Linked DNA regions of Homo sapiens: all the other regions are linked to region 1. The links come from fine-mapping of genetic effects on gene expression. A gene starts in region 1. Each other region holds a variant in brackets. All regions are shown on one strand. Distances are from middle to middle.

Region 1 (2,764 bases):
CAACCCAAGCCAAGTATCCTTATTTTGGCTGGAATTCTGCCAAATAACCACAAGAGACTGGTGCGGTACAATCGGCATGGAGTGAAGCTTGCCAAATTTGACCGGAGAACGACAAGCCTCCATGAATAAGCTCTCATGAAAAGGTAAACCATTCTTCAGGATGAGGTTTGTCTGCGATTTGAAAAGTCAGATTCAAAGGACTCTTGTTCCTTCCTAAGAGAAGAGGGAACCAAAATTGAAATTTTCGAAACTCCTGGGTATTTACAGTTCACTTTTACCAAGATGTTTTTAAAACTAAAAACTAAAATTTAAAAAAAAAACCCTTGTTCTGAATAATGCAATAATGTCTTCTACATAATGTTTCAGCTATTATTTCTAGAAAGTAATTCTGTTGCCAGTGATCTTGAATGTACTTGGGTACCAAAGAAAAAAGACACCTGTGCCTGGCAGGTCGATACGCTACTAATTTGCCCGAGGTACGAACGAAACAGAAGATGCTGATTTCTGGATAAAACGTTCTGCAGTGCCAGGTAAAAGAGGTCACATGCCCTGAACGGCCGCCGCTCATTTAGAGTGATGCAAAAGCTCCTCAGATATTAATTTTGTTAGAAATTCGGGGAATCAAGCAACCTAAGATCAATTCATTTAGACAGCGGGTGACTGGTACTTTCCAGTTTCCTTTTTTCAACGGACTCAGTGCATCCTAGCCTGATCTCTTATAAAGGGGTAGGCAAACTCGGCACCAGGTGCCCATGCATTTCAGGGAGGTACACACAGGACCTGCAGGGTCACCCATGCACAGCCCCACCCCGAATCTTCTATCCGCCCGAGATGGGGAAGACCCTTCCCCAGAAATCCTGGGCAGCGTTTTAAGTCACCGCCTGGCCAGGCTGAGTTTCCGTCCGCGTCCGCTCAGGACTGCGGGCACAGCGCCTCGTCACGCCCCGCATCTCCCACCTCCCGCCGGCCCCGGCGGCTGTCCCCAGAGCTGCGCCCGCGGCCGGCGACACGCGCCGCAGCGGCGCGCTTATCCGCAGCGGCGCAGCCCGCCCGCCCGCTCACTCACGCGGGAGGCAGCGGCGGCGTCTCCATTGTGGCTCCTCTCGGGCTTCAGAACGCAGGCACCGACCAACACAGCCAGCACCATTCCAGCCGCGGACGCCGGCACTGCCCGCCCGCCGAGCCGCGTTCCATCCGCCCCGGAGGGGGCGCCGCGCTCTCCTCACCGCGCGCCACCACCTGCGGCGGCGGCCCCCGCGGCCATGGCCCGCTCGGCCGGGCGCGCTCCGTCTACTGCGCGGCTCCCGCGCTCGCCCGAGTGCGGGGCGGCGGCGACGGGACCGGCGGGCGCGCGGGCTCGGCCACTTCCGGGTTCGGCCCCGGCCGGCGCCGACGCTGTGACGGGACTGCGATGCGGCCTCCCGCGGCGGCCGAGTACCCCTCCCTCGGCGCCTCCCCTTCCTCCTGCTGCTGCTGCTGCCGCTGCCGCTGCCGCTTCTGCTTCTGGAGGCGGGCGGGCGGGCGCCAGCCGGGTGCGGGGCGGGCGTGCCCAGACGCTGGCCCGCAGGCCGGGACGCGGGCGGCGGCCGCCCACAGCGGGTCTCTGGATCGCCGGGACGGGGGCGCTGGAAAATGGGAGCGGAGGGGGTTCTCCGTGCAGAAAAAGGGCGGCCGAACGCACGGCGTAATAATGCTCGGTATCCACTTGCTGCTCTGCTTCGCGGGCGTGTACACGTTATTCTTTTCATTTGTGCCTGTACCCAGGGAGATGGGAAGGGTAGGCATAACCAACCAGTGTCCTTACAAAGGGTGGCACTGAGGCAAGAAGAAGTGATTTGCCTGTCCAGTGTCCCAGGCAGGAAGCAGGCTCTCCCTCCTCAGTATGCTAGCCATTCCTTGGACAAGTGAAGTGAGCACCTGCTAAGCAAGGTTTTAGTGCTGCGGCTGTGACAGCAAAACCAAGTCTTTCTGCTTGTGGAGCTGTCCATCTAGACGGGGTGACGGAAACAGTAAGTGATGCTTACCATGAAGAAACATAAATGAGGATGAGGAGAGGGAAAGAGATTTTAGAAAGAGTGGTCAGAGAAGGCCTCTCAAAAGGCATGAGTTAAAGAGATGGAATAACAGGGGCTTTGAGTAATGCAAAGAATGCCTAGGGCAGAGGGAAGAGCAGCGTGGAGACTGCTAAGCAAGATCCTGCCTGCCTTGTTGAGGAACGGGAAGGAGAACAGTGCAGCTGGTGGTTCTCCAAGTATGCCCGCTGGAAGCAGTAGCACCTGCGAACTTGTTAGAGATGCGAATTTTCCAGTCCCACTTTAGCCCTACTGAACCAGAAACTCTGGGGGTGGGGCCCAGCAGCGTGTGCTTTAACAAGCTTTCCAGATGATGCTTGCTGGGGCCGCGAGGGTGGGAGACCCTCTAATGAAGCAGAGTGAGGTCAGGAGGACGGCGGCAGGAATGGGTGTGGCGAGGAGTAATCACAGATCACCCAGGCCTTGCAGGCCGTGATAAAGGACTTGGCTTTTACTGAGATTAGAAGCAATTAGAAAGTGGTGAGTAGCTTGATCTGATCATTAAAAGGATGACTTTTCTGGGATTTGTTTGAAAATATCCCACAAAAAGAAGGACAGAGGTCGGGCGCCGTGGCTCACGCCTGTAATCCCAGCACTTTGGGAGGCCGAGGCGGGCCGATCACCTGAGGTCGGGAGTTCGAGATCCGCCTGACCAACATGGAGAAACCCCGTCTCTACTAAAAATACAAAAA
Region 2 (2,764 bases), 31 kb after region 1:
ACTAATAATATTCTTGATCTGTACAATTTTGCTAACAAAGAGCTTTACATTTTGGAAGACATAAACTTAAAATACATTTGCACAAGTCCAGTGGATTCTGTGTGTCTTTCTGACTACAAAGGTAATGACAAAACTGCTGGCAGTGGGTTGGGAGGTGGATAGGTAGGAAGGATATGCAAAAGGCAAAAGAAGCCGTGTAAGAGAACAGTGACCTGTTTGTCAGGGAAAGGTGTTCTCACCCACGGAAGTGTTGTCCAGGCTTCACACCCTTCTTAAGAAGGCTGCAATGTACCCTAAAACTTAAAGTATAATAATAATTTAAAAAAAGACTGCAGTTCCTGTTGTCAGACTCCAAAACCATCCTGAGACAGTTATTCCTCACTGCAATCCTAAAAAACCACACCAACTCATGCAAGTCACCAGTCAAAACCCAAGTTATCTTTTTGTTGTTGTTGTCTAAAAGATCATGTTGTTTCAGGCAATCAGTCAGAGTCTGGTCTAGGGATCTTTTAGAAAAACATAATCAAGTCTGTGTTTAATACTGAATTCCCAATTCAGTAGGGTGTGTTAATGAACACTGACTAATTTGGAAATTATAATACTGTAGGGCACAGTAGCACTGATTTTAATTCTTACACAGGAAAAATTCTACCTCTGTGTTTGCCCTCACCTGCAATCACTGTGTATGCAGCCATATGTCTTTGAGAAACTTGGATTTAATTTTTGAAATATCATTTTAAGGGGCTTTATGATCTAACTGTTGTGATAGCTCAGTATCTGCCTTACAGGACTGCTTTGAGAAACAATCATCACATGAAGAATGCTTGTTTTTTTTAAAAAACAATCCAGAACTATATTGTCATTACTTTCAGGCTATATTACTGGTAGTAGTAGTAAAATGATACTTATGTAGGGCTAGACATATCCTTATCCAATACCCTTGAAGTCTATAATTCATTACCATAGAATTCCTGGTAATCAATCACACAAAAGGTAGCATTTCTTATAAGAACAAGAATCACAGAGGGGGAAAATTTTATAAAATATGTCCTCAAGGATGAAGATGTCACTATTTATTTACTATTAATAGACGTAAATTTTAAGATTCTTTCCTATAGTAGGGATGAATTTATACTGACTTATGATCCCTTTCTTGCCAAGATTTTCTCATAAGGGAAATATTTGTGTGACAGATGTGACAGCTGAAATATCATGTCTTATTAATCAGAAATGGGTCACATGGACATACG[C/G]AGGGTACTGGCTGGGAAGATTGGGGTTGTGCTTTGGGTTGGGTCTGCCAACTAACAGGGATGGGAGCTTCACCATCCCTCCCCTCATCCGTTTCTAACTTCATTGAACTCAGTGAAGCTCAGTAGTAGGGAAAAGAACAGAGATGGTTTGAGGCTCATATATAGAGAAGGGTGCTTATTTCCCAAATTACCTAATAATCAACTTTTACTTACAAAAGCTTAGGTTTGAAGGAGAAAGTGAGAGGGTTTACCCTACCTGCTTTCAAGACTTACTATTAATATTACAGTAATCAAGAGAATGTGATATTGAAATGGGGAGAGACATATAGAGATAGATGAATAGAACAGAATAAAAAGTAAAGAAATACATCCACATGTATACGGTCAATTGATTATCAACAAAAATGCCAAGGCCATTTAGTTGAGAAAACATGGTCTTTTTAACAAACAGCATTGGCATAATTGAATCTCTATATGAAAAAAGACCATATACACCATAAACAAATATTAACTTGAATTAATGTAAAAGCTAAAACTTCCGGAAGAAAATGTAGAAAAAAATATTTATGATCTTAGGTTAGGCAAAGATTTCTTAGAATACTTAGAAGGTGCAAACCAAAACAGAAACAAATTAATAAACTGGAGTTCATCATAATTAAAAACTTCTGATGTTTAAAAGATACAGTCAAGAAAACAAAAAGGCAATACACAGAAACTGTTAGTTTCCTTTCTTGCTGGTGATCTGGAGGCAAGATGACAGATGATGGATGAACAGGCAACAAGGCCGAGAAGAATGAGGTCAGTGAAATGCTGGCCAGCTGCCCAAACCAACTCGAGCTTGACCCGCTTTTGATTTGATGGCATTCCCCACCGTAACAAATTTTATTTTATTTATTTATTTATTTTCGAGACGGAGTTTCACTCTTGTCACCCTGGCTGGAGTGCAATGGCACAATATCAGCTGACTGCAACCTCCGCCTTTTGGTTCAAGCAATTGTACTGCCTCAGCCTTCCGAGTAGCTGAGACTACAGGCACACCATCACATCCAGCTAATTTTTGTATTTTTAGTAGACACAGGGCTTTGCCATGTTGGCCAGGGCTGGTCTCAAACTCCTGACCTCAGGTGATCCTCCCACCTCGGCCTCCCAAACTGCTGGGATTACAGGCGTGAGCCACTGCACCCAGCCCATAACAAATATTTATGAAGTCTCTACTGTGAACCAGGTACTGGCAGGGCACACAGAAGGACAGAAATGGAGCTGAAAGCAAACAGGCAATTGGCTGGCACAAAGAGAGAAAGATGAATGGCTGATTTTGTGAGACTAAATTAGTTCTTGATTTCAAAATGAGGTAAGGAAGATTCAAGGATTTAAAAATTATAGGCCTATTTTGCTTATAAACCTAACTAAAATGTTAGCTATCTAAATCCAACAGTGTATTTAAAAATTAATGATCAGTTGGTACAGTGTACACTGCTCAGGTGATGGGACGAAAATCGCAGAAATCTCCACTA
Region 3 (2,713 bases), 70 kb before region 1:
TGTGGTGTGGCTTGATCTAAGAACACAGTCTACCGTTGAGAGTCTTAGTAAAAGAATTCCAGGAAATAATAACTTTGTCAAGTCCAAGACAGGCCTTCCACTTAGCACTTACTTCAGTGCAGTGAAACTTCGCTGGCTCCTCGACAATGTGAGAAAAGTTCAAAAGGCCGTTGAAGAAAAACGAGCTCTTTTTGGGACTATTGATTCATGGCTTATTTGGAGTTTGACAGGAGGCGTCAATGGAGGTGTCCACTGTACAGATGTAACAAATGCAAGTAGGACTATGCTTTTCAACATTCATTCTTTGGAATGGGATAAACAACTCTGTGAATTTTTTGGAATTCCAATGGAAATTCTTCCACATGTTCGGAGTTCTTCTGAGATCTATGGCCTAATGAAAGCGGGGGCCTTGGAAGGTGTGCCAATATCTGGGTGTTTAGGGGACCAGTCTGCTGCACTGGTGGGACAAATGTGCTTCCAGATTGGACAAGCCAAAAATACGTATGGAACAGGATGTTTCTTACTATGTAATACAGGCCATAAGTGTGTATTTTCTGATCATGGCCTTCTCACCACAGTGGCTTACAAACTTGGCAGAGACAAACCGGTATATTACGCTTTGGAAGGTTCTGTAGCTATAGCTGGTGCTGTTATTCGCTGGCTAAGAGACAATCTTGGAATTATAAAGACCTCAGAAGAAATTGAAAAACTTGCTAAAGAAGTAGGTACTTCTTATGGCTGCTACTTCGTCCCAGCATTTTCGGGGTTATATGCACCTTATTGGGAGCCCAGCGCAAGAGGGATAATCTGTGGACTCACTCAATTCACGAATAAATGCCATATTGCTTTTGCTGCATTAGAAGCTGTTTGTTTCCAAACTCGAGAGATTTTGGATGCCATGAATCGAGACTGTGGAATTCCACTCAGTCATTTGCAGGTTGATGGAGGAATGACCAGCAACAAAATTCTTATGCAGCTACAAGCAGACATTCTGTATATTCCAGTAGTGAAGCCCTTGATGCCCGAAACCACTGCACTGGGTGCTGCCATGGCGGCAGGGGCTGCAGAAGGAGTC[G/A]ACGTATGGAGTCTTGAACCTGAGGATTTGTCCGCCGTCACGATGGAGCGGTTTGAACCTCAGATTAATGCTGAGGAAAGTGAAATTCGTTATTCTACATGGAAGAAAGCTGTGATGAAGTCAATGGGTTGGGTTACAACTCAATCTCCAGAAGGTGGTGACCCTAGTGTCTTCTGTAGTCTGCCCTTGGGCTTTTTTATAGTGAGTAGCATGGCAATGTTAATCGGAGCAAGGTACATCTCAGGTATTCCATAAAACCTACCAACTCATGGATTCCCAAGATGCGAGCTTTTTACATAATGAAAGAACAACCCAGCAATTGTCTCTTAATGCGATGACACTATTCATAGACTTTGATTTTATTTATAAGCCACTTGCTGCGTGACCCTCCAAGTAGACCTGTGGCTTAAAATAAAGAAAATGCAGCAAAAAGAATGCTATAGAAATATTTGGTGTGTGTGTGTGTGTGTGTGTGTGTGTGTGTGTGTGTTTTTAACATCCACAGTTAAGGTTGGGCCAGCTACCTTTGGGGCTGACCCCCTCCATTGCCATAACATCCTGCTCCATTCCCTCTAAGATGTACGAAGAATTCAGATCCTCACCATTGGAATCTTCCATCAAACATACTCAAACACTACTGGAACAGGACTTGAGTCTTTGCATGACATATACTTGATTAAAAGGTTATTACTAACCTGTTAAAAATGAGCAGCTCTTCGCTTTTAACAGATACCCCAAAAGTCTTCTTTTCTACATAGTAGAAGACGGAAACACCTTTACTGAATGTTTGAATAGAAATATCTACTAAATTATTAAAATAGACATTTAGTGTTCTCATAGCTTGGATATTTTTCTGAAAAGTATTTGCCAAAACTGAAATCCTTCCAATATTTTCCATGGTCCCATTAATTATAATGACTTTCTGTCTAGATCTTATAGGAAAGGATACTTTCTTTTTTCTTCCATCTTTCCTTTTTATATTTTTTACTTTGTATGTATAACATATATGCCTATATATTTTATACACTGAGGGTAGCCCATTTATAAATTAAGAGCACATTATATTCAGAAGGTTCTAACAGGGCTGGTCTTAAGTGAACCACTATGTATATCAATATGTTGGAAAACAGCTGTATACATTTTTGGGCAATGGTTATGCATAATATCTACCAGAATTTTTTTCTTAAACAGCCAACATTTAAAATTTATGTTTTATGTCCATAAAAGAAAATATACTTTATTGTGACTTCAACTATATTTCTTATCCCTTACATTTTTATTTAATTGTCTTAGCCTAAAAAAAGAAGAAACTGTGGAATACTACAGTAAATACTGTTTTCAAACACAAGCAATAATTCAAATAGTTTTCTTTTGAATTAATTTTAGACATATTTTGGATCCTATTGAGGGGATAAGAGGATGTCAAAAAAGTTAAATACCTAAGTAGAAAAAAATATAGAAATAAAGCCAGGAATCTCTTTCAGTTCAAATGTTATCAATTGTGAATAAGAAATTGCTATCTGGGATGACAAAATTATCTCTGCTTAGTATCTTATTATAACTGAAAAAAGGTTTATCATTATAAATGCCTTCCAAGGAAACCAAGAATTTCTCAAAATATTTAATGTCACATATTAT

Direction of the effects. Positions count from the first base shown, and alleles are read on the strand shown. Sizes are in standard deviations (SD) of each study's normalised expression. Not every link is listed here.
As copies of G replace C in region 2, the expression in testis of the gene that starts at base 1,408 in region 1 goes up (moderate effect, 0.40 SD a copy in GTEx).

The links. PIP is the estimated chance that this variant, and not a neighbour inherited with it, causes the effect.
Region 2: its variant is fine-mapped to the expression of KLHL2 in testis (GTEx, PIP 0.99).
Region 3: its variant is fine-mapped to the expression of KLHL2 in whole blood (TOPMed, PIP 0.97).

The regions. Positions count from the first base shown.
Region 1 is chr4:165,206,205-165,208,968 of GRCh38, reverse strand. It overlaps KLHL2 (kelch like family member 2), which reads right to left and starts at 1,408. Exons shown (of 15, transcript NM_007246.4): 1 at 1,067-1,408. The coding sequence starts at 1,092. RefSeq lists a silencer at 1,107-1,756 and an enhancer at 1,287-1,787.
Region 2 is chr4:165,175,365-165,178,128 of GRCh38, reverse strand. No RefSeq gene overlaps it. Among named protein-coding and RNA genes, the nearest start is that of KLHL2, 31 kb to the left of the region's middle. The variant C/G (reference allele first, on the strand shown) is at 1,251.
Region 3 is chr4:165,276,601-165,279,313 of GRCh38, reverse strand. All of the region lies in intron 5 of KLHL2 (kelch like family member 2), which reads right to left. GK3 (glycerol kinase 3) reads left to right here. Exons shown (of 1, transcript NM_001395953.1): 1 at 1-1,507. The coding sequence ends at 1,330. Among named protein-coding and RNA genes, the nearest start is that of GK3, 1.7 kb to the left of the region's middle. The variant G/A (reference allele first, on the strand shown) is at 1,076.